7 linked regions of the Homo sapiens genome follow. The protein of the gene in region 1 interacts with the protein of each later gene in a pairwise test. Each region holds a gene or a part of one and is shown on either strand. Other genes may lie near its edges.

Region 1 (3,305 bases):
AGCTCCTTGAAGGCAGAATTCTGATATTATTTATTTGTATGTGCTCAGAAGCCAGCATAGTTCCTGGAATGCTGCCAGGTTTAGCAAAAACCAAAACAAAACATATTTGTTGTTTGTCTGAAATTCAAATTTAACTGGGTGTCCTGTATTTATTTCTTGCAACCCTATTCCTGGCACATAGCTAACCTCAATAAATATTGATGAGTGAGAGGATGAATGAATGACTAGCACAGTACCAACAAATGGAGAAATAAACTGGTAAAAACTTCAATTGACCATATAAAAGACACTCATCTAAATTATGCCTAACAATCACAGAACAACAACACTGTGTCTGGTTAACATACTACCTTTTAAAATCTGACAGTCTGGCTTTGATTGAAGATGCATTTTCTATCCATGCTTTGTCAGCCACTTTTACTCAGTGTCCATGTGGGAAGAATACTAATCTGGTAATGAAGGTGTTTTGTTCCAACAATTTCACATCTTAATTCTGCACATTTCTGATCTCATATGTTTAATTGTTTATTAGTGTGTACCAGTTGTACAAGAAAATTGATTTTGGGTGGTATATGGGTTTCAGTCATTCTGAAGTACAATCATCTCTGTATCTTCCTTTAAAATTGCCAAAATTGTGCTTTTACTCCAGCTGAACCCTGGGGTTTTGGGTAAAGTCATTCACTGTGATTATACCATCAGGGCCAATTCTGTTTGGAAAAAGGTATATCTGCAGTTAGTTCATTGACAGTTAATCTTAAGAAAGACAATATGCAAACAACTCTCATTTCACATTAATTCTGCTGTTGCTCCTTTTTCTCTTTTTTTGTTTTGTTTTGTTTTCTGAGACAGGGTCTGGCTCTGTCATCCAGGCTGGAGTAACTGGTGCAATCTTGGCTCACTGCAACCTCTGCCTCCTGGGCTCAAGCTATTCTCCCAATTAACTGATACAGACACATACCACCACGCCTAGCTAATTTTTGTATTTTTAGTAAAGACAGGGTTTCACCAGATTGCCCAGGCCGGTCTTGAACTCCTGAGCTAAAGCCATCCACCCACCCTAGGGTTACAGGTGTGAGCCGCCATGACCGGCCCTCTTTTTCTTTTAACCTTTGACTGCCTGCTTCTCCTCCTCCTCCTTCTCCACTTCTGTTCCACTGGTCATAGCTAAGCGTGAGTCAGAGTTACTAGGGGGGCTTATAAATACACAGATTCCTGGGCTCTGGCCCTAGAGTTTATGATTCCATAGGTCCAGGGTGTAGCCTGAGATTCTGCATTTCTAACATCTTCTTAGGTGCTGCTGCCGCTACTGCTAGTCTCAGTAGCACTGAAAGAATTGTTTTCCTATATCATTCTTTTCCTTCCTCTTCTCCTTCCCTTTCCCGTTTTCTTTCAGATCATCCATATTTCATGTTTCTCACAATACTTTTCTGTTTCCAGAGCAGTATAATACAATAATCTCACTATCTTGGCCAGCTAGATTTCTTTTCCTGGTATTCTTTCACCTCCACTTGACAAAAGTTAACTTACACTTCCTGTTCCATGTAGTTTAGCATCCTGCTGACATGTGATGCAGAGATCTCCCCATCCACTTTGGCAATATACGTGTAGAGAAACTGGAAGGTGCTGAACGGGATCCGGGGCGACCCACCATTATGGTCACATGATAAGACCTCACACACTATCTTGAGAGTTTTGGTAATAGTCTATAAAAGTTAGATAAAATGAGGAGAAAGTTACTCTTCCAGGCAATATTCCTGAGATCGGTTTAGATACAAGAAAGAAAACAAAAATATTGCTCTTATAAAATGAAGTGGGAACAATTTAAGATTCTAGAAAGCTTGAAATTTTTACATTCAAATGTCACTAATTCATTCTAAAAAATATTAAGTATTGGGTATCTTTATTTCTTTTCTTTCTTTGTTGGAAGACTACTCAAGGAATTAAATTTATACATTCCTAAGTACTTTAAGATATTTGTTACTTTAGCCCGAATAACCTCACTAAAGGAGGGAAGTTGATTTGCATTCTATATAATTAGAATTATTTCTTCTTATTACCCTCCAGTCTTATCTCTAAAGGGCTGAGATAGATGGTCTAGCCTATATAGTCCAGCAGGATACTTGTGGCAATGACACAGTAGAGGAGAAGAAGGTAGGAGAAGGGTAATTTCCCCAGGAAAATGGAGTCCCAGGAAGATACTGGAAAAATGTTCTTAAACATCAAGATAAACGTTCCTCTAAAGCATCTGGGTCCATCTAAATAGAATCAGCTAGTGCTTTATTTCATACTACATAATACTAACCCTTTTATTGCTGGGGAAATATTGGTTGACAATGAGTGCCAGGAATTTTAATAGAAGGGTTACTACAGAAGCAAACCCTCCTTGCAATGAAACTTGAACATTAAAGGAGCATGCTCAGAACTCATCTCATGTCTTTAAATAACCCACCCTTTGAATAAATGTTACAAGCAAAAGAGTTGTGAAATGAAGGTCACCAACAGATCTTGGTGGTTTACTGAAACTGATGATGTACGGATCATCCTGACACTCTTCCAGGGATCAGTGAAAGATCAGTTCTGAGTGGTGACTTAGGGTGAGTGAAAAAGCAGCTGCTGTATCTTCCCACATGATTAGTAGAGGAGACTTGTCCTGCCTTAGCAGTTGATGTCTGCTGTTCTCCTCTCATCCTCTCCCAGAACAGAATGATTGCCTAGATGAGGCTTCTCTAACTGTGGTGTGTGTTACCCAGGAGCGTAAGTCTATGTCAGGAGGTACTGAGGATGTGAATAAACTCTTCCTTGAGTGATAGTTTTACTTGATGGCAAGTAATTTAAACATAATTTGTAATAATTATTAATTTTAATTGAGTTAATATTTCAAATTTGATTCTTTACATTTAATAAGCATTGTTATTTTATAAAACAGAATCTTCAATACATGATGTCAAAAAAAATTGAGTTTGAGGCAGGCCACCTTCCTTTCCTCTCCTCTGCCCCTGGGGGTCCTCTCATGGAAATTGTTGTGAAACACTGCATCTTCTACTCACTTTCACTTAATTCAGAGCAGGTGGGAGGGCAGGCATGGGGCCAACTAGTATATATGAGGCTGTCTGGGAGGATGGTAAATCATGCATGTGAGATGAGGTCAGTGGGAGAATGGTTTGGGGTAGATTTGCAAGCACACTCTGAACATTATAATTTCCACCCACAGCTCACCCTGTTTCTGTAAAAAACAAACAAATGAACAAAAACAACCCTCTGCACCCCTAATGCTTTGTTCTGTTGCCCTCTCCCATGGGGTGCTG
Region 2 (3,500 bases), on another chromosome or scaffold:
TCAGGGTTTTCCAGATTGCTCCTATATCCACTGAGGAGTCTCCCTGAAAATCCTCTGAGGTTAGTACAGCAGATTTACTCCTTCCTGAAGGGAAGCTCAGAGAAGTAGAATGACTTGCCCAGGGTCCCACTGCTAGAGTTGGGAGTAGGTCTTTTGCCTCCAAACCAGTACTCTTGCTCCAGAGCTAAGCCGTGTCTCACATGTGGACTAACAATGTCTTTGGACGGTGCCCAGCAGGGATTCTGGTGAAGGTCAAGACCACAATTTCCCCATACTGACTGTAAGGCAGAATTAGATGCACACTCCAAAGACTTACAGGTGTCAATAGCAACAAGGGTATCATCAAAGTCATCTTCATCCTCTTCAGCAGGAGGCTGAGGAGAGCGGCCCCTGTATTAGAAACAGGGGTTAAGTCATACAAGAACAATGGATGAGCACAAAGGAAAGAAAATGAATGTTCTGCTGTAATCTATGAGTGGCCTCCAGACTGCTTCCTGAATCTCCATTTCCTTCCACAGAGGTGGGCAAAAGAACTCTGAAACCCTACATCCTTGCAAGGAGAGCAATGACCGTCAACTCCTACGGTGGAGACAGGGATTGAAGAAGGCATGCTCTGCTGAAGGGGGGCATCAGAATCATTTAGGGAATTTTTTCACTCTTTTTTTACACCCAAAGATTCTGATCCATACCCTCTGCATGTTGACAACCACTTCCACACTGATCTCTGTTACTGTTTGGAGGCTGTGGTATCCCAAAAGGGTGCTGGCCAGGAAGGGGAATGTGCAAGAGCCTATATAAATCCCAATAATTACTATCTATCCATGTACCAGGCTTCTTAAAATCCTACATCTGTAAGAATTTGAGATGACCCATTTTTTTCAGTGTCCTAAATTATAAACGATATTCATTTTCCTACCAAAACGCTAAAAAAGGGACTTAACACTGTTGGTTTCTGCTGTACAGGAACGAGGAAGAAGGGTAGAAAGGTAGAATCTAACACTCAGGGTCCTGCCTGGACAGTCTGGGTGGTCGCAGTGCACTGCATGCACAGATGGGGAGCCCATGCCCATTTGGCTGCTGACTCTCCCAGCAGCAGGCTTCCCTCTGGTGGAGGGCCCCTCTGGCCTCGCCAGGCCAGGGCTAACATGGATGAGCTGTGCTCATCACATGTTAAGTCCATTCTAGGAAACTTTCCCTGCCAGCCCAGGATCAGAGCGAGTGTTCTTCCTTTGCTCTCCATCAGTAAGTAGCTTCCAGGCTTCTGCTCTGTGGGAGGCAGTGGAAGAACCCCATATGAGGTGGGATCCATGTCCTAACTTAAATCATAGCCTGTGAGATCCAGGCCCTGTCTCAGACAGTAACAAGCTAGTTAGAAGGTGGACTCCGCCAGATAGGAAATAGAATGTCAGATGACTAGTCCAGATGAGTACAGTGGCCATTCCTAGTTTTCATAATTGCAAAAGGCTTCAGACAGGAACTGAAGGAAGGAAGGAGGGAAGGGAAGGACTTGGTCTGGAGGGAAAGGAGGGAAGGGCTTGTTAGGGAAGGGAAATGACCAAAGCAGAGGCTGCTCCCTCTTCTGAACTCCTGAAACTCACCTGCATCCTGACTACTCACCTCAGAGGTTGTGGCTTACTAGTGTATGTGTCTGAGTCCCCACACTGGAACAACAGAAGGCAAAACCCACTGTCCATCTGTATGTTGCTAGTGTCCAGCCCAAGAGTGGGCACTTCGTGACAGCACTGTGAGAACTGACTGAATGAGTGGATGAATGGGAAGAGGATGTGTATTTGGGAGTAGTGTTAGGAAACAGATATTTCTTTCATTACGGGTATCAAGCAGCTGACTGCAGGGGCAGTAAGGCAAAGGACAGAACAGGCAGGCTGGCATCTCACGCGTGAAAGTCTAAGATATTTAGAAGTTACCCTGCAGGTAAGAAGGGAGGAACTGGGGGAAGGACCAAAAGTTTAGGAAAGCTGAATCTGGTAGCAAGTACGGGAAGGGACAGGAAGAGTGTGAAAGCAGAGGGAATCTTTACTCAGCCCCTCTAGGTTAGTGCAAATGTCCCCAGCAAGCACGAGGCTATGGATATAGAAACCTACCAGAGCAAGGGTGACTGCTGCCTCATACACCCACCTCCTATCCTCTCGGTGCTCAAAGTACCCCCGTCCCCGGTTTTCTTCATAAGGCCTCTTTCGACTCTGGAATTGCTGCCTGTCTGGCTTGAGTTGAGAAGCTTCAGGCGGGAGGAAGCTGGTGGGTGCTCCTTGCTTCATCTCTGTCTTCATTTCTATTGTCAAGACAAATTCAGATGGTCAAGACACTCGCAAGCTCCCCAGCTATCACTTTTCTGGTCCCTTTTCCCTTGAGAGATGTGAGCAGGATCCTCACTACAGTGATGAAGGGCTGGGCACAGGCAGCTTGCTGAGTTCAACAGAAGCCTGCTGAGCCAGCCAAGAAGGCCATACTGGAGAACAGGGTTAGGATCTGAGATACCATGACCCTAAATTCTCCAATTTCTCTTCCCAAAGAACCTCTCTGCCTTAGTTCTTACAAAGCTTCTTCAGTCTGGCAAGGGAGGGGGAGAGGATGAATTCAACAGGGTACTGTGGTCCTGCAGCTAACTCTACGGGCTTTAGTTACCCTACCAAAAGAGGCCAGAATCACTCCGGTTAAGCCATCCCATAGGTGCAATAACCTCTTTAAGTCATACCATTAACAGAAAGTCAGGATGGGATACCGTGCTGTGGACCACGGGTAAGTCCTAGTCTCAGGCAGACTCCAGGAATCAGTGCCTAACCAAGAGCAAACCACAGATGTAGGCTACCTTCATTTCTCCCACAGCATTAATCCCTGATGCTGAAGCTCATTCACATCTACTCATTTCTGCATTCAACCCCAGACCATTTTGGATCACTCCCCAGCTTCGGCATGTGGACCACATCTCTCAGAAAAGTCTCCTGGTTCTCTAGGGCTGGGATGGTGCTCAGCCATCCTGAAGAGAGCTTCCCTGGTTCCCAGCAATAGGTTGGGCTCACACAGGGCTCCTGATGAATGTCTGTGGATAACGGCACAGAAAATATTCTCCTGTGGCTGAATGATCCTACAAGTCTCACAGAGCCTGACACAAATCTGCGGTTTAACCTACATTCAGTAAAGTTCTGAGCCACCCACAAGAAATGTCTGGGGATTTAACTTTGTGGATGAACCAGAATGGCGTTAGACAAAATCAACCAGATACACTAAGAAAAGGCACTGGGAGGCCACAACACAGTAAAAGCAGCACAAAACTGGGGGTCAGTCCGGGCTCCATCAGTTCTCAATAGTGGGACCCTGCTTTCCAAATAGTAAGGCACAAATGATAAGGAATGCTGCTTATTAACCAAGAGGACTAGCCTGGGAGCAAGTATGCTAGGTTGTAGCCCCAGCTCTGCCATCGGACAAGCCAACTCCTCAATCTATAAAATGGGGAGGAGAGGCCAGGCGCAGTGGCTTACACC
Region 3 (2,874 bases), on another chromosome or scaffold:
AGCAAGAACCTGTCTCAGAAAAAAATAAAAAATCAGAGAAGTCATAGAGTAGGTTGTTTGGGAAACAAAGGCAAATGACCCCAATAAAGGTTCCTGGCAGCTCTAGCCTGCGGAGTTTATGACATTCCCAGCAAGCTGCTCTCTATTCTACAGAAACCTGGTGATTAACTGGCCTATTTGGAGGATTCTTTCTGTATCATAAATAGGATCCCAGCACTTTGGGAGGCCGAGGCAGGAGAATCACTTGAGCCTAGGTGTTTGAGACCAGCTTGAGCAACATAGTGAGACCCTATCTTCACAAAAAGTAAAATATTAGCCAGGCGTGGTGGCGCTTGCCTGTAGTCCCAGCTACTCAGGAGGCTGAGGTGGGAGGATCACTTGAGCCTGGGACGGGAGGTCAAGGCTGCAGTGAGCTGTGGTCATTCCACTAGGCTCCAGCCAGGGCGACAGAGCAAAACCCCATCTAAGAAAAGGAAGAAAAAGAAAAAGATTTCCCTGAGTGCAACCACATTATATTCTAACATGTTGATTTCTTTCTGTTTCTAGCTGATTATATAGTCATGCAGTTTGGACGTGTGGCAGATGACGTGTTCACACTGGATTACAACTACCCACTTTGTGCAGTACAGGCCTTTGGCATCGGTCTTTCTAGCTTTGACAGTAAGCTGGCGTGTGAATGAGAGAACAGTCAGGCAGGGAGCCCTTCTCCCCACAGAGCTTTCAGGAGCAGACAGTGGCCTCCCCTTCCCCTCCCTGCCCCAGGACTTAAAGAGCAATAGTTTGCCCCTTTTGGAATGATCTCTGAATATATAAAACACACACACAAAGAGCAATAGTTTGCCCCTTTTGGAACGACCCCTGAATATATAAAACACACACACGAAGAGCAATAGTTTGCCCCTTTTGGAACGACCCCTGAATATATAAAACACACACGAAGAGCAATAGTTTGCCCCTTTTGGAACGACCCCTGAATATATAAAACACACACACGAAGAGCAATAGTTTGCCCCTTTTGGAACGACCCCTGAATATATAAAACACACACACACCCCGCGCACTCTCACTCCTTTTCCAGGTTTCATAGACTTGGTGAGGGATCACAGCTTAGCATGGGTGAGAGATGATTTAAAGCACAGGGAGATTCTTGTCACATTGGGGTCTCCAAAGCTAGAATGGGATTTCATGTGCTTGGAAACTTGCAGTAGAATCAGGGACTGACATCGCAGTTCCTCTCCTCTCTTCATTCCCTCACAGCAGATTGGCCGGCACCAATCTTAGTCAAGAGTGGCTGTGATCACATTTGTGATCAATTATGTGAGAATTTTATATAATTGTCTTCATTTCAATTAAGGCTGAAAGCATAAACTCTAGAGGTGACTCAGTCAGGACTGACAGTAATGTGATAATTGCCTTCATTTTCAACCCAGGAGTGCCTCTCACAGCTATATGACTACGGATCCATTAGTGAGGAGCGACACACACACCTGTAGGCATCCTGTGCAAACACTTTGTCATTATCAAGAGAGATGGCAGTATTGACCATTTAGTTTAGTTAAAAAAAAAAAAAAAAAGGTGGCAGGAGAGGCTTTGGGGAGGATCAGCCAGCAGACATGAGCACTGCTGGCCCGTGTGGCAGAGCTGTGGACTTTCTTCTCGGCTCCCTCAACCCTGGCTCAGGCACAGAAGGTGTTTTGCTACGTTTTTTTGATTATTACACCCCTCCACGTATTATGTGACTCTTACACCAGTTCACCCTTCCCAGAATGTATCCAAACCTTGAGAATGCAGGAGCTCTGTGAGCTCCACCGTCAGCACCATTCAGCTGCATCCCTTGTGCACAGAACTGTTTGCCAGCGTTGGGTGGGACACCCGTGGCGGCTGCTCCCTCAGACCTCCCTTCTGTGGACTGACCTCTCACCTCCGCCTGTTGTTCCTGCACCACATCAGATAAGCATGTGAAGGAGGGCCAACTGGCAGCTGCGGGACCCTTGGCTTGTCCCCCACCGACAAGTCCCACCTGCTGGGTGAGGACGAGACTGTTTCCATCTCAGGCATGTATCCCACCAAGTGCCTCCCTCACAGCCATGCCCAGAAGCCTCACACCTCGTCACCACCACCACCCCCCACCCCATCCTGAGGCACTGCCTGGCAGATAACCCTGGTTGGCCACAGAAGCTATTAATACACGACAGCATGTGGGGAAGGACTTATGGTGGGCCAGGTGGACCTCATCCTGCTTCTTCCTCCCTCTGGTTTAAAGAGATATATAAACTAATTTCACATAATTTGTGTGTGCAGGTGATTGGTTTTTACATAAGTCCTATTTATACCTTTTATATGTTACAGAAATAAAAGTTAATTTATATAAAAATGTGTCACTGCCTTTGCAAGTCCTATGCCTCAGGAAGTTCCTACTGTCATGTTATATAATCATAATTGTCATCTTGGGCCACGTGCAGTGGCTCACGCCTATAATCCCAGCACTTTGGGAGGTTGTGGCAGGCGGATCACCTGAGGCCAGGAGTTGGAGACCAGCCTGGCCAACACGGCAAAACCCTATCTCTACTAAAAATACCAAAATTAGCTAGGTGTGGTGGTGCATGTCTGTAATCCCAGCTACTCAGGAGGCTGAGGCATGAGAATCACTTGAACCTGGGAGGCTGAGGTTGCAGTGAGCAGAGATCACACCATTGCACGCCACCCTGGGCCACAGAGTGAGACCCTCGCCTCAAAAAAAGAAAAAAAAATGTTTTGGTAACACATCAGTTCTGTAAAACCAGGTGATTACTAACAAACTTCTCATCCTGATGTAGAGCAGGAATCTGCAGACTAAGAAGGCTGTGTTCCGGAGGCTACCTAGACACACTATAC
Region 4 (3,500 bases), on another chromosome or scaffold:
AAAGTTCAGTAATCAAGAGTATAAATATTCTCAGAGTAGTGAAATTATTGCAAAGCATGGTGGAAGATGGGAATTTTCCCTTTATTTTTATGTATTTATTTTTGGAGATAGGATTTTGCTTTGTTGCCCAGGCTAGAGTGCAGTGGTGGGTCATGGCTCACTTGCACCCTCCACCTCCGGGTTCAAGTGATTCGCCTGCCTCAGCCTCTGGAGTAACTGGGACTGCAGGCATGTGCCACCATGTCTGGCTAATTTTTTTGTATTTTAGTAGAGATGGGGTTTTACCATGTTGCCGAAGGTGGTCTCAAACTCCTGAGCTCAGGCAGTCTGCCTGCCTTGGCCTCCCAAAGTGCTGGGATTACAGGAATGAGCCACTGCGCCCAGCCCTTCCCTTTATTTTAATGTGGAGGGGAGAACCAGTGGGTAAAAGTCTTAGGCTCCACCTAAGGAAATACTTCTCACCTTCAGATCGGAAAAGAAAATGGTCATTTGAACAGGGAGTGAGGCCCACGTCACAGCCACGAGGGTGTGCGCTTGAAAGAACCCTCAGAAACCATGACATGGTCAGGAGTGGGGTGTGCGGTGAGGCCAGGTCTCTCCAGGACCCAGTTCTGCTTGGCACCAGAGCCTTTTAATTCTCCTCTGAGTTGGATCTTGTTCCACCAGGGAGGTTGAGAGGTTGGCCTTTTCTTTCCATATTAATTTCCTCCTCAGTCATCAGACTGATGACATTCTGACCCTGCTGTGTAGTTTACAAAGCATATCAGAGCGTGTTGTGGGCCAGCCCAGGAGAGGAGCTGGTCATATCATTCATGGTGCATGTGTTGGGGAGGGGTGCTCCGGACGGCCTGGGCTGGTTTGGTGCTTGTGCAGTGGGGGTGGGGAAGGCTCTGGCCATGGGGAGATGCATTGCCCCTGGGTGGAATGTGGGCTGGCAGAGCCCCTGGGTTTCCCTCTCACCTGGTGGCCTTCACCCACAGAGGACTCTTTCATGTCCACTATTGGCTCTGCTGCTTCTGGCTGCTGGTGTCCTCTCGTAGTGGCTGCTGTGGGGCCATTTCTCTCTCAGACTTAATTTCATGGGAGCCACTGTAATAGGAGCAAAATCCCCAGGGTGTGGGGTTTGTATTGCAGACTGTGGCTCCAAGAGGCATCTCCAGGACAGAAGGGGCTTTGATATCTTCACCCATCTACACAGGCCTGGGCATTTCCTTGAGTCTCAGTGGGAGGGACACCAGCCATGGGATTTCCTCCTCTTTCCCCGTTTACAATAAAACCGTACTATGGAAACATCATATATGCATGCACCCGGTGCACTTCTGCAGACAGTGGGCTGTGTCTAGCTAAACCCAGCCTACTCTGCTCCAGCTGTTCCCCGAGAGGATTATAAGAGAGGTTGCAGACCCACCTGGATGCTCTGACCTCAGTCATACTGTGTGCCCCAGCTAGGGTAACAAGCCATCCTTCAGTTTGCATAAGACTGAGTAAATTCCCAGGATGCAAGACATTCAGTGCTGAAACCAGGACAGCTCCAGGCAAATTGGGACACTTGGTTATTCTACCTCGGCTGTTCTTCCTCCAGGCCTGCCACTCCATTGGAGTTTTGAGTCCAGATTTCTAGAATGTGCTGCATGCCGAGGAAGTCTGTCGGGGGGCAGGTGAGGGAGAGTGAGATGTCTTCTTTTCTTTTTCTTTTCCTATTCTTTTCCAACACATGCATTCACAGTCTTCACTGTGGCTAGCACAGGAGCCTCCATTGGCCAGCGCCGTATTTCCCTAAGCATTTGGTCTTGGCCCTAGGAACAGAGCTTTTGCTGTCTTTATTTGTCATCTCAAAGTGCATGGCCTTAAACTTGAGGTTCCCCACAGCACTTCACACTCAGCTGACTGCAGCAGGGCACTCTCTTCTGGTCATTTGTAAAGAACATCCATGGCTCCTGGACAAGACTCTTGCTTAGTAGTTGGCAAATGAGCAGAAGTATCCCCCTCCCTGCAGCTGATGTGTGTACCTGGGGCAGTTCCCATCCAAGTTCACATTACATCAGTGTTGGGATTCCATGTGTCTTGGCTTAGGAATCTTGGCACTCAAAGTAGGGGGCTTAGGAGCAAAAGAATCACACCTGTCCTGGAAGGAATGAGGGGGGCCTATCTGCTTGACTTCAAGGGACTCATTTCACTGTTTTTGTTTGTTTGTTTGTTTATTGTTGTTGTTGGTTTTCTGATGTGAAATGGAACAGGGGCAAATCTTTAAAGCTGGTGGAGTCAATTCCACAAACAAAACTTCCCTTCCTTTCTTAAGAGCTTTTTGTAGAAATCAGCCTTGCAATTAGCACTGCAACGTTCCAACCACTTAACACACTTCCCCACTGGCCTTTTGAAGCAAACAAGTATTTAGAAGCTGACAGGACAAAGTCACTTTATTTCTCCTTTTCCTTTACCTTGAAATTGTTCCTAGCCACAGGGCTGGCCACTCCTCACTGTCCAAAAAACTACCCTGATGCAGTATGCAGTGGCAGATCAGTTTAGTAAGGAATAACCCAAGTCACCGAATGCAAGAGAATGAAAACAAAAACAAAAACAAAAAAAACACCCTGTTGCATTAACGCAAGTATTCTCTGGGCTCTGTGTCTCTGGACGTGCATCTTCCAGAACCTGCAGGCGCGTGGCCTGCCCTCCACCTGCGTGGGAATGCATGCTGGATTTACATCCCAGTTACATCGCTTCCAGAAAGACAGGATCTCTGTTGGATGCCCATGAAGCTTATACTGAGTAAATATTGACAAAGTAGTCTAAAGAGCAAACACTTTGACATTTGTAAGGTCCACTGGAAGGTCTTGTATATATTTATACATCAGGAATGAGCACCGCATACCAATTTTCCTGAACTTGTTGTGACATAATTCTGCATGGAGAGTGTGTGTGCACAGGTGGCTGAGAACGGCTGAGTGTTCACATGGGGGACAGGGCTGGGGGCTGGGTGGTAGCTGGTCAGGGTATTTCCTCTCAACTGGAACGAACCCACACCTATCCCTGCCAGGAAACCTACCTCTAAGCTTTTCTGAGACCTGCTTTTCCAGAAGGAAGAAAGAAAAAAAAAAAGCCACAAAATCTTGTTTTTCCCTTATTACAATGGACGTACTTTTCTTTTTACTTGGTAAAAATTTTATTGATGTTTTTATACTTTATATTTATTAAAGATTGAGCCTCAAAAATGTAATGAGTAAAAAATGCTTGCTTAATTTAAATTGTGAATCTGTCTGTTAAGAAATGCATTAGGGGTAGGAGAAGCATAAGACATATTAATTGACAGACAGGAACTGCTGTCTCTGAGGTTGATACAAGTAATTTATTACTTTAGAAATGAATGCCACCTCCAGAATGTGCTTCATTAATTTCAAATTTAGTTTTAATTTCAAGCTGTTGCCCCTTGAGAAGAATAAGGTGGCAAATTATGTTTGAAGAGCAGATTTTTTTTTTTTTTTGCTCCAAAGAAACACCAC
Region 5 (3,500 bases), on another chromosome or scaffold:
TGTCTTATAAACTAGGCAAAAGTGGGAGAGAGGAGGGCAGCAGGAGAAGTGGTGGTCTCCTTCCTTAATGGTATAGGGTGAATATTTTATCTTGTACTTTTCATGGTTTTAGAGACTGTACTTTACATGTTTCTAAAGATTAAGCATTTCTACTCATTAAGTTGAAGAATCTTTAGAAGTCCTCTCACTGAGGTTTTTTTCCAGAATTACTGGATTATTTCTTTCATACCTATCATTTTTCTTAAAATGTAATACACTTGTAGATAATAAGAGGAAATAAAAGATGACTGATAAAGGGCTTGCAGTCTGTTTTGTAAATTTTAAAAATATTAGTGGTATCCTTCAAGCAGATTTAGCATTTCTTCCAATTCTACACTAAGAGTAGCCTAGAGTTAACCATGGCCTTTTTTTTTTTTTTTTTAAGTGTTCAAAAGGATTTTGATGACAACTCTAAGGTACCTTCCAGGGCTTATTTTTAGGAAATAAAAAATAAAACGATAGTATAAATATATGCTACCTAAACTTCCCCTCACATACTTTTTTCTAGGTTATTTTTTTTTAAAATCTTCAAACATTTTCATTTCCAAATATTGCTGCTGTTTAGCCAGAGAAGAACTTATACAACTAGCTTTCAGTTGTCTGCTGAGTGTCCAGGGATTAACATAAGAGACTAATTTCAGCACATAACCTATTTAACTAGTCATTTCATTCAGGCAGTGGTCCCAACCTGATGCACATTAGACTTACCTAGAGAACTTGAAAAATAGTGGTGCCTAGGTTCCATCCTCAGAGATTCTGATGTAATGGTCTAGAATAGAATTTGGGCAGCCTCTCAGGTGATCATCATGAGGAGACAGGCTTGACACCTGTAGTATTCATGTGAGAACTAGCTGAGTTTGGGGTTGGGTTGCATATGGTGAAAGGGAATGAACTTAAGTCATTTCCTTCTCTTCCCTATTTACAATGAAACAACCTAAGAGAAGGGGAAAATCAAAGATCACTGAGAATCTGCAAAGGTTAGAAAATGAAGTAGCTTTTTTCTTTTTGTCATTGTAGACATGGAAGGTCTTTAATGTAACTTTAAATGGTTCACCAAAGGATGCTCTAATGGATGACAGCGATACTCCTACATATTATCTGCAAATAGAACCACAAGATGGATGTCATCCTGGTGACAGCGTGGAAAGGAGTGTGACCTGTCTGCCTTCTGCATCAGATGAAAATGAAAATCAGCTTGACGGGGACGGGCATGAGCATCTGACCAGCAGTGACAGTGCGATGGGAAAGCCCCAAGTGTCTGAGCAGGACAGTCTCAATAATAATGAAAGCTGCACATTGAGCTGCGAGGTGGCTGCAGGTGAGAACTTGCAAAACACCCTTTGTGAAGCCTCCAGAGATGAACAGGCCTTCTTGGGAAAGGACAAAAAAATTCCTGGAAAAAGAAGTCCAAGAAGCAAAAAAGGGACTGCTAAGAAGATACCACCAGGTATTGTTTAAAATAGTATTTATCCTCTTCTTTAATTAATTAAAAATGAACCTCCTTCCCTCCCATACTGTGTTTACTGTCCTGCACCTTGCTTCTTTGCTTACGATATTCTGGAGCTAGTTCCGCCGCAGCACAAGTAGATCCAACTGCATGATATTCCAGTGTGATACGTCTCCACACTGTTCCACCGTATGGGTGTAACACAATTTATTTAATCACTTCCTTATGGCCCTTCCCAGTCTTTTACTATCATAAACAGTGCTGAGGCCGGGTACGGTGGCTCACGCCTGTAATTAGCACTTTGGGAGGCCGAGGTGGGCGGATTACCTGAGGTCGGGAGTTCAAGACCAGCCTGGCCAACATGGTGAAACGCCATCTCTACTAAAAATACAAAAAATGAGCTGGGTGCAGTGGCGTGTACCTGTAATCCCAGCTACTCTGGAGGCTGAGGCAGGAGAATCGCTTGAACCTGGGAGGCGGAGGTTGCAGTAAGCCAAGATCACGCCACTGTACTCTAGCCTGGCTACAGAGTGAGACTTCGTCTCAAAAAAAAAGAAAAGAAAAAGTGCTGAAATTGACATCCTTTGTACATGTTTTCACATTAGGTACTTTAAATATATGCAGCCTCCTCTCCCTCCTTTATAAATTAGACCATTTTCTACCAATATCAACCTTAAAAATTGCCTTCTGTCATTCCTGTGGCTTTGATCCCTAACCTGTGAGTTTAGATGCTACTGTGACCTCTTTATAGATCTTTCCATCTCACTCAGCAGGTAAATAAAATACAGGAACATATATTAATGTACAATTTAATATGTAGTGTTGAATAAGACATCTGGTTCTAATTATCTGTATCACTTTGGTTAAAAAGTAATTCAGAGTATTTCTTGTTTGGTATGCAGTTTGGCAGTTGAAGTTTAGAGCTATGGAATTTTTGGCCTGAATCACAGGGCCCCCTTGGGAAAAGGCAGCCTCTGGTTATTTTTTTTATCAGAAACATATGGGACTAGAAAGTTTTGGTATGCCCTAGACTGGATTCCTTAGTGTAGTACCACTTTTTACCCAAGCCAACAGATTTTACATCAGACTCTAGTGAACTAAGTAGAATGCCTCTTCATCTTCTGTTCTCTTCTTTGGTTAATTAGAAATATATCTGTCTATATCGTATTTTTTATTTGTATTTTTAAAATTTGAAGTAAAATACAAAACTTTTCAGTTTCTACAAAATCCATATTTATTCAATAAAGTAATTTGAAAACTTTTTAATATAATTCATAATCTGGCTTTCTGGTTAATGTAACTCATAATTTGGCTTTTCACGTCCCTGTATCTTTTTCTTAGTAGACTCAAAATAATTTTTAACCAGGGATATGAAAGCTTTTTTTTTTTTTCTTTTTTTTGAGGCGAGTCTCACTCTGTCACCCAGTATGGAGTGCAGTGGTGCAATCTCAGCTCACTGCAACCTCCGCCTCCTGGATTCAAGCAATTCTCCTTCCTCAGATGATTCTCCTGCCTCAGCCTCCTGAGTAGCTGGGATCACAGGTGTGCACCACCATGCCCAGCTAATTTTTTTTGTATTTTTAATAGAGACAAGGTTTCACCATGTTGGCCAGGCTGGTCTCAAACTCCTGACCTCGTGATCCGCCCACCTCTGCCTCCCAAAGTGCTGGGATTAAAGGCGTGAGCCACCGTGCCCAGCAAAAGCATTTCTTAAAAGATCTAATAAGCAGAGGATATTTACAGTACTATGTATATATAAATCAGTTTATTCTATAACTATCATTCAAGGGCAAATTCACCAGGCCTCTCAATCTGATTTTGTGATTTTATTTTATTTTCAAGACAGGGTTTCACTCTGTCACCCAGGCTGAAGTGCAGTGGCGTGACCATGGCTCTCTGCAGCCTTGATCTCCCAGGCACAAGCGATTCTCCCACCTCAGCCTCTGGAGTAGCTCGGACAACAGGCATGTGCTACCATGCCTGACTAATTTTTCTTTTCTTTTTATTTTTGTAG
Region 6 (3,500 bases), on another chromosome or scaffold:
ATATATTCTCCAGTAGGTTCCTGAGAAAGGGTGCACAAAGGTTAAATTTTTGGAGACTTAGCCTCATGACTGTCTAAATTCTACTGGTGATCATATCCCCAAAAGACCAAATCCCTAATGCCATAATCCCAAATGTTGAAATACTGAAAGATCAAAATCTCTAAAAATCAGAATCCCTAAATTCTAAAAATCTCACACATCTGAAATCCTGAAAATCAGAATCATGAAAGATTAAAATCCCAAATGTTGAAATGCTGAAAGCCAACACCTGGGGTAGAAATTAGTGCACATTCGGTTGTATGAAAGATAGTTGCATCATTTTACTTGCATCATATTAGGTGGAACCGATTGCCTTTTTATTGTATTTATTTGGAAATTAAGTATGGTTTAAGGAGATGGTTTATGGGTGCCAAATTGACGAGGGGTGGATTCATGGATTTAATTTTAGGTGTCAACTTGACTGGATTAAGAAATACCTAGAAACTTGTTAAAGCATTATTTTGGGTTTGTCTGTGAGGAGATTAGTATGTGAGTCTGAGTGGACTAGGTGGGGAAGATCTGCCCTCAATAGCGGTGGCCACCATTAAATCTGCTGGGGGCCCAGAGAAAACAAATTGTTGCCTTTCTGAGAGCTGGAACGGACTTTTCTTCTGCTGAATTGAACATCAGAACTCCAGGCTTGTTGGCATTTGGACTCTAGGACATACACCAGCAGCCCCCTGGGTCCTGGGCTTTCAGCCTCAGACTGAGACCTGGTTTGGCTTGGTTCTGAGGTCTTTGGACTGAGCCAAGCTACCAGCATGCCAGGGTCTCCAGCTTGAAAATGACCTGTCCTGGAACTTATCAGCCACTATAATCGCATGAGCCAATTCCCCTAATAAATCGTCTCTCATATATCTATGTATATATATATCTTATTGGTTATGTCTCTCAAGAATGCTGTCTGTCGAGAATTATGTCTGTCGAGAATGCTGACTAATACGGATTTGGTATTGAGAAAGCCAAATATCATTCCTTCTTACTGTATTCCTTACAGCACAGTGGAAGAGACCTGTGAAATTGTTCCCTTGCAAAAAGGCTGTGATAAATTAAGTATACCAGGCTACTTAATGCTGAAAGAGAAAAGTTTAAAAGCTAATTATTATTGGTGTTGTGAAGACAGAAAATCACTTAATTGCAATGGCCAAGCAATAACCAGATTTCTAAATGGTCAGCATATACTTACAAAATATTTAGACCACAACCGCTCTAGTCTAAACACAAGTGAATGTTTTGAAGATCATAGAAGTGAATATGCAGGTGAAAAATATAAGAAAGCTCCCCTGCCAAATTATTCAATCAGGTATGACTTCTGCCCTTTCACACATAGTGCCAATTTGCTATGCTATGTATTTTATCTTTGCATCATTTCTAATACTGCAGGTATAAATTCTGTAAAGGCTTTTAGAGAATTCTAATTCATTTTATGCACTTTTTTTTTGCATATTTGACTCCATGAAAGTGCATTATCACAATGTGACGTAATGTGTAAGCATTGTGCATGTACATAAAAATGTTGAAACTTGCTCAGTAAATGAAGAGATGTCCGTTTTGTTCATCTGTATTTGTGAAAGATAAAATTTCTCAAGATCTTGGCTCTTTGGGTGACTCTATTGCAGTTTTTGTGCAAACGGTAGTGACCCATTGCAGTTTTTGATCGATCTTGTCAGAAGATTCAGGTTGTCTGGTATTTCAGATGACCGCAGTTATGAATCTGGGTGCACCTGATTACCAACCATAGTGATACGTGTTTATCCATTTTGCTTTTTAATCTATTTCTTCATGAATACATTTTCTCTGTTCCTATTATACCCATGCAATGGTTGTTAGTATACCTGAGTATTTATGCTTGCAAAAATATGTTATTAGTGCCTATTTTATTGTGTAAAGGGGCCTATGAACTGTTCCGTTGTGTTTTTATGTTTCTCAAATAAATCTTTTAAAAATGGAAATAAGTGTCTTTTAGAGAACTTTTTACAAATTATTTTTCCAGAATTCAATTTTTTGGATTTTGTTCTTTTGGGATTGTGATTTTTGGAATTTTAGATTTTAGGGATTTTGATCTTTTGGGATTTCAACATTTGGGATTATGGCATTTGGGATTGTGTCTTTTGGGATTATGTCCTAAACCCAAATTCTGTCACCACCGACTGTCTAGTGATAACATTTAAAATGGAAAGATAAAATGACTTGATTTTTTTTTTCCCTTTATTTTTAACTGCATTTAAAAAAATAGAGGCTGGGCATGGTGGCTCACACCTATAATCCTAGCACTTTGGGAAGTTGAGGCTGGTGGATTGCTTGAACTGAGGAGTTTGAGACCATCCTGGTCAATATGGTAAAACATCATTTCTACAGAAAAATACAAAAAAATTATCTGGGTGTGGTGGGGCCTGCCTGTAGTCCCAGCTACTTGGGAGGCTGAGATGGGAGGATCACCTGATCACCTGAGCCTGGGGAGGTTAACGCTGCAGTGAGCTCTGATTGTGACACGGCACTCCACCCTGGGTGATAGAGTGACACCCTGTCTCAAAAAAAAAAAAAAAAAAAAAAAAATTAAAAAACAGGAAAAAAAATTTAAAACACAGAGAAACCAAAAAAACTAGAAACCACATGCACATGAACCAGAATTTCAAAGGTATAAGAGGTTATGGATGGGGAAATGTATCTATGACATGAGAGAGTCTTTTGGGATGATGGAACTGTTCTGTATCTGACTATATAATGCTGGTTACACCAATTTCTATATGTTTTAATATCCATATAAATGATACTAAAAGAAAAATTTTAGTCTGTGTGTATGATAGGTTAAAAGGTGAAAAATTAAAAGAATTTAAAAATACGAAAAGGTATACAGCAAAAAAGTCTCCTTCCCCTCTTCCTTTAGTCTTCTAGCTTTCTCTTCTGGAAGAAACCACTGTTACCAATTTCTTATGTATTCTCCTATGTAATCACTCTTAAACATCTGAACATTTGGGATGAATCTGGCAAAAGAGAAAATAACTTATATTTGCTTAGCTATTTTCTGAGGATGCTAGATGACTACTCTTATAATATGTCTAAATATATTATTATTTTTATTTTGTTGAGGCAGAGTCTCAATCATCACCCCAGACTGGAGTGCAGTGGTGCAATCTGGGCTCACTGCAACCTCTGCCTCCCAGGTTCAAGTGATTCTCCTGCTTCACCTCCCAAGTAGCTGGGATTACAGGCATGTGCCACCACTGCACCCAGCTAATTTTTGTATTTGTTTGTTTGTTTGAGACAGAGTTTTGCTCTTGTTGCCCAAGCTGGAGTGCAGTGGTGTGATCTCGGCTCACTGCAACCTCCGCCTCCTGGGTTCAAGCGATTCTCCTGCCTCAGCCTCCCGAGTAGCTGGGATTACAGCTGTGTACCAGCACGCCTCGCCAATTTTTTGTATTTTTAGTAGAAACGGGGTTTCACCATGTTAGCCGGGCTGG
Region 7 (3,500 bases), on another chromosome or scaffold:
GGCCAGGCTGGTCTTGAACTCCTGACCTCAGGCGATCCACTCGCCTCGGCCTCCCAAAGTACTAGGATTACAGGTGTGAGCCACTGCACGCGGCCAAGTGTGTTATTATATTAGAAGGTGATAGTGCAGTGGAGAAAAAGCATGGAAGAAGACTAGGAAATTGATCATTTGGGGATTTCGATTAGGAAAAAATAAGCTGTAACATGGAATGACCATGTCCTTAACCCAAAAAGCTTTTAGTAGATTTATCTAACCCACACCAGGATGTTGCTGCTGCTGCTGAAGTTACTTAAGCTCTAAGAGGAACTGTATTTTTTTTAAAATGCCATATTATACAAATGTAACATGGGATTTCATTACTTGGTAATGAGTAAAACAAGTAAGGGTAGACTTTGAATTTCTTATTGGAGAGTATGTATTTTAAAGTTGAGCTAGTAACTGCTTTAATGTATTCTGTCAGTGCGTCTCAACCATCTTTTAGGTTCTGCCCACATAGAAAGTAAGTTTTGAATAGTACACTAAAGTAGATGAGATTGGGAGGCTAGAAGCACCTGGCAGGCAGCACCTCATGAAACTCCCGGGATGGGAGATCAATATTCTGGCACACCTGTAAATGCTGGGGACGCTCTACTCCCTAATATTGCTAGAGTTCTGCCATATACAATTCAAGATAGTGGTTTTCAGACTTATGTGATCCCTTTGAGACATTCTTTACTCATTTTCTTTTTTTCTTTTCCTTCCTATTGTTTCTTCCTAGAAAAAAGTAATGTATCACCAAGTAAGATTACAGTTAAATTATGTTTTAAGAAACCTTTTCTTTTTTGGAGACAGGGTCTCACTGTGTCACCCAGGCTGGAGTGCAGTGGCGCTGTCTCGGCTTGCTGCAGTTTCAACCTCCCTGGGCTCAAGTGATCTTTTCCATCTCAGCCTCCTGAGTAGCTGTGACTACAGGTTTTTGTATTTTGTAGAGACAGGTTTCACTATGTTGCCCAGGCTGGTCTGGAACTCCTGGGCTCAAGCAGTCACCTGCCTTGGCCTCCCCAAATCCTGGCATTACAGGCGTGAGCCTATGTGCCCAGTCTTAAGAAACCATCATTAAGAGAATGTTATATTTGTGGTGATACCTAAAATTGATAGGAGTTAAACAGATCTACATTTAATTTTGGTAATTCTAAAAATCTTTAAATATTACATGAAAAGTTTCTTGTAGCAAATTTTTAGTTTTAGCGTTTTAGGGACTGATTATTTGGTAGAAACTTTTATCCCCAAACTGCAGAAGCATTCTTTTATTGAAGTGAATTTTTATGTGATTCTAAACATTTTTGAAAGTGTAGCAGTATTGAGGTATTCTTTTCTCAGGTGAATCCTAAAATTGAATTTTTTGTTGTTGTTGTTAAATGCTTTTTTAAAATTTTATTTTATTTTATTTTTTTGAGACAGAGTCTCGCTGTCGCCCAGGCTGGAGTGCAGTGGTGCGATCTCGGCTCACTGCAGGCTCCAATCCCCGGGCTTCATGCCGTTCTCCTGCCTCAGTCTCCCGCGTAGCTGGGACTACAGGCGCCTGCCACCTCGCCCGGCTTATTTTTTGTATTTTTAGTAGAGACGGGGTTTCACTGTGTTAGCCAGGATGGTCTCCATCTCCTGACCTCGTGATCCGCCCGCCTCGGCCTCCCAAAGTGCTGGGATTACAGGCGTCAGCCACCGCGCCCGGCCGTGTTTTTAAATTTTATAACCTTTTTTCTTTCCTATGTATTATTTAATGTTATGAAGTACTTGACCTCCTGGATATAATTTCTGATTTTAGAATTTAACTGCTTCATTCAGACTTCTCGTAAGTTAGCAATTTTAACATATATGCTGTCTAATTTTCTAATTTGACATTCTAGAATTGTTAATTTTAGATAAAACCTCCTGTTACGTTGTGTCTTAAGATCTTAGAAAGTCAGTGCATAGTAGTTGATGTTTGTCAACTCTAAAAACAGTGATATAATTGAGAGAAATGGTCAGTTGAATTACCCTTGTGAAATTTCTGCATTTACTTCCTCTCTTACCTAGCTGGGTCTTAGACTGTTAACTGTCAATTTGTAGGGATGGAAGGAGGTTGAGATTTAATAACAGGAGATAAAGTATGAATGTGTGCTTATTTTCAGACTTAGAAATAATGCATTATTTTGGATTATTCACAGCTTTTAAAATTTTTTCTCTCTGAGACAGGGTCTCACTCTGTCACCCAGGCTAGAGTGCAGTGACGTGGTCTTGGCTCACTGCACCCTTGTCCTCCCAGGCTCGGGTGATCCTCCCACTTCAGACTCCCAAGCAGCTGGGACTATAGACACGCCACCATGCCTGGCTAATTTTTTTATTTTTTGTAGAGATGGGTTTTTTCCCTGTTGCTCAAGTTGGCCTTGAACTCCAGGACTCAGCCATCGGCCCACCTTGGCCTCCTAAAGTGCTGGGATTATTACAGGATGAGCCATTGCCCCCAGCCCACTGCTCTTTGCTCAAGTAATTGGCTATAGTGATTGAGAGAGATGGAACATGGACTCTTACAGACATTACTGTTGTAGTAGTCATGTTGCCTTGACAGTTAGATACGACGTCTGTTTGTTGATGTCAGTATGGAAGGGTTACAACATAATTAAAAGTTAGAAAATAGGCCAGCATGGTGGCTCAAGCCTGTAATCCCAGCACTTTGGGAGGCTGAGGTGAGTGGATCACCTGAGGTCAGGAGATCGAGACCAGCCCGGCCAACATGGTGAAACCTAGTCTCTACTAAAAATACAAAAAAAATTAGCCAGGCGTGGTAGAGCGCATCTGTAATCCCAGTTATTTGAGAGGCTGAGGCAGGAGAATCCCTTGGGCCCAGGAGGCGGAGGCGCCTTGCAGTGAGCGGAGATCATGCCACTGGACTCCAGCCTGGGCGACAGAGTGAGACTCCAGCTAAAACAAAAAAAAAAAAAAGGAAAAAAAAAAAGGATTATCTTTGAACAGTAAAAATTTACAATTATAATTTTACTCAGTACACAAGTATACACATGAGAACTTCTTTTTAAAATATGATACATAAAGTAACCTTGTGTTATAAACTCAGGAATATTTCTTCTTTTCTTTAGCTATAAAAACTATAAAGTAGTTTAGTAAATGCTTAATTCTTGACTGAAAAGTTACATAATTACACCAATGATTTCTCTGTGATGCCAAACTGTGTTCATTACTTACACCTTCACAGCATCAACAGATTTCAGAGCTTAGTTTCACTACTCAGTTACTGTGTAATTTTGAGTAAGTCACTTTCCAAATAAGTACATACTTACCAGCAGTTACTGCTATGTCTCTATTAGAATGAAATTAGGTTAGTTGACTTCCTTTTTTATAAAGAATATGAAGATACTATGAAGAACATTACAGTTATGGCAAACGCATGCAGCAAGAAAATAAGCCACTTTTTTGGTATATTATATAAATATGAATTTTAAATTATTCCTTTATAGGTACTGAAC

The links.
Region 2: the proteins of ROPN1 (region 1) and HNRNPUL1 interact in a two-hybrid assay, tested with the Homo sapiens proteins (2 studies listed by BioGRID and IntAct).
Region 3: the proteins of ROPN1 (region 1) and TULP3 interact in binary tests that used the Homo sapiens proteins (3 or more experiments, as listed by UniProt).
Region 4: the proteins of ROPN1 (region 1) and TSHZ3 interact in binary tests that used the Homo sapiens proteins (3 or more experiments, as listed by UniProt).
Region 5: the proteins of ROPN1 (region 1) and CNST interact in binary tests that used the Homo sapiens proteins (3 or more experiments, as listed by UniProt).
Region 6: the proteins of ROPN1 (region 1) and PRKAA1 interact in binary tests that used the Homo sapiens proteins (3 or more experiments, as listed by UniProt).
Region 7: the proteins of ROPN1 (region 1) and UBE2W interact in binary tests that used the Homo sapiens proteins (3 or more experiments, as listed by UniProt).

Annotation. Positions count from the first base shown.
Region 1 is NC_000003.12:123,968,515-123,971,819, forward strand, and holds the end of ROPN1 (ropporin-1A), read right to left. Parts: intron 1,704-3,305; coding exon 1,528-1,703; intron 708-1,527; coding exon 641-707; 3' UTR 501-640; downstream 1-500. UniProt on the Homo sapiens protein: Important for male fertility. With ROPN1L, involved in fibrous sheath integrity and sperm motility, plays a role in PKA-dependent signaling processes required for spermatozoa capacitation.
Region 2 is NC_000019.10:41,270,872-41,274,371, reverse strand, and holds part of HNRNPUL1 (heterogeneous nuclear ribonucleoprotein U-like protein 1), read right to left. Parts: intron 2,291-3,500; coding exon 2,137-2,290; intron 391-2,136; coding exon 317-390; intron 1-316.
Region 3 is NC_000012.12:2,938,765-2,941,638, forward strand, and holds the end of TULP3 (tubby-related protein 3), read left to right. Parts: intron 1-546; coding exon 547-680; 3' UTR 681-1,765; coding exon of another isoform or gene 1,766-1,962; 3' UTR 1,963-2,374; downstream 2,375-2,874. UniProt on the Homo sapiens protein: Negative regulator of the Shh signaling transduction pathway: recruited to primary cilia via association with the IFT complex A (IFT-A) and is required for recruitment of G protein-coupled receptor GPR161 to cilia, a promoter of PKA-dependent basal repression machinery in Shh signaling.
Region 4 is NC_000019.10:31,279,937-31,283,436, reverse strand, and holds part of TSHZ3 (teashirt homolog 3), read left to right. Parts: intron 1-3,500. UniProt on the Homo sapiens protein: Transcriptional regulator involved in developmental processes. Functions in association with APBB1, SET and HDAC factors as a transcriptional repressor, that inhibits the expression of CASP4.
Region 5 is NC_000001.11:246,590,456-246,593,955, forward strand, and holds part of CNST (consortin), read left to right. Parts: intron 1-1,056; coding exon of another isoform or gene 1,057-1,107; coding exon 1,108-1,486; intron 1,487-3,500. UniProt on the Homo sapiens protein: Required for targeting of connexins to the plasma membrane.
Region 6 is NC_000005.10:40,777,875-40,781,374, reverse strand, and holds part of PRKAA1 (5'-AMP-activated protein kinase catalytic subunit alpha-1), read left to right. Parts: exon of another isoform or gene 1-20; intron 21-1,036; exon of another isoform or gene 1,037-1,293; coding exon of another isoform or gene 1,294-1,342; intron 1,343-3,500. UniProt on the Homo sapiens protein: Catalytic subunit of AMP-activated protein kinase (AMPK), an energy sensor protein kinase that plays a key role in regulating cellular energy metabolism.
Region 7 is NC_000008.11:73,872,363-73,875,862, reverse strand, and holds part of UBE2W (ubiquitin-conjugating enzyme E2 W), read left to right. Parts: intron 1-3,500. UniProt on the Homo sapiens protein: Accepts ubiquitin from the E1 complex and catalyzes its covalent attachment to other proteins.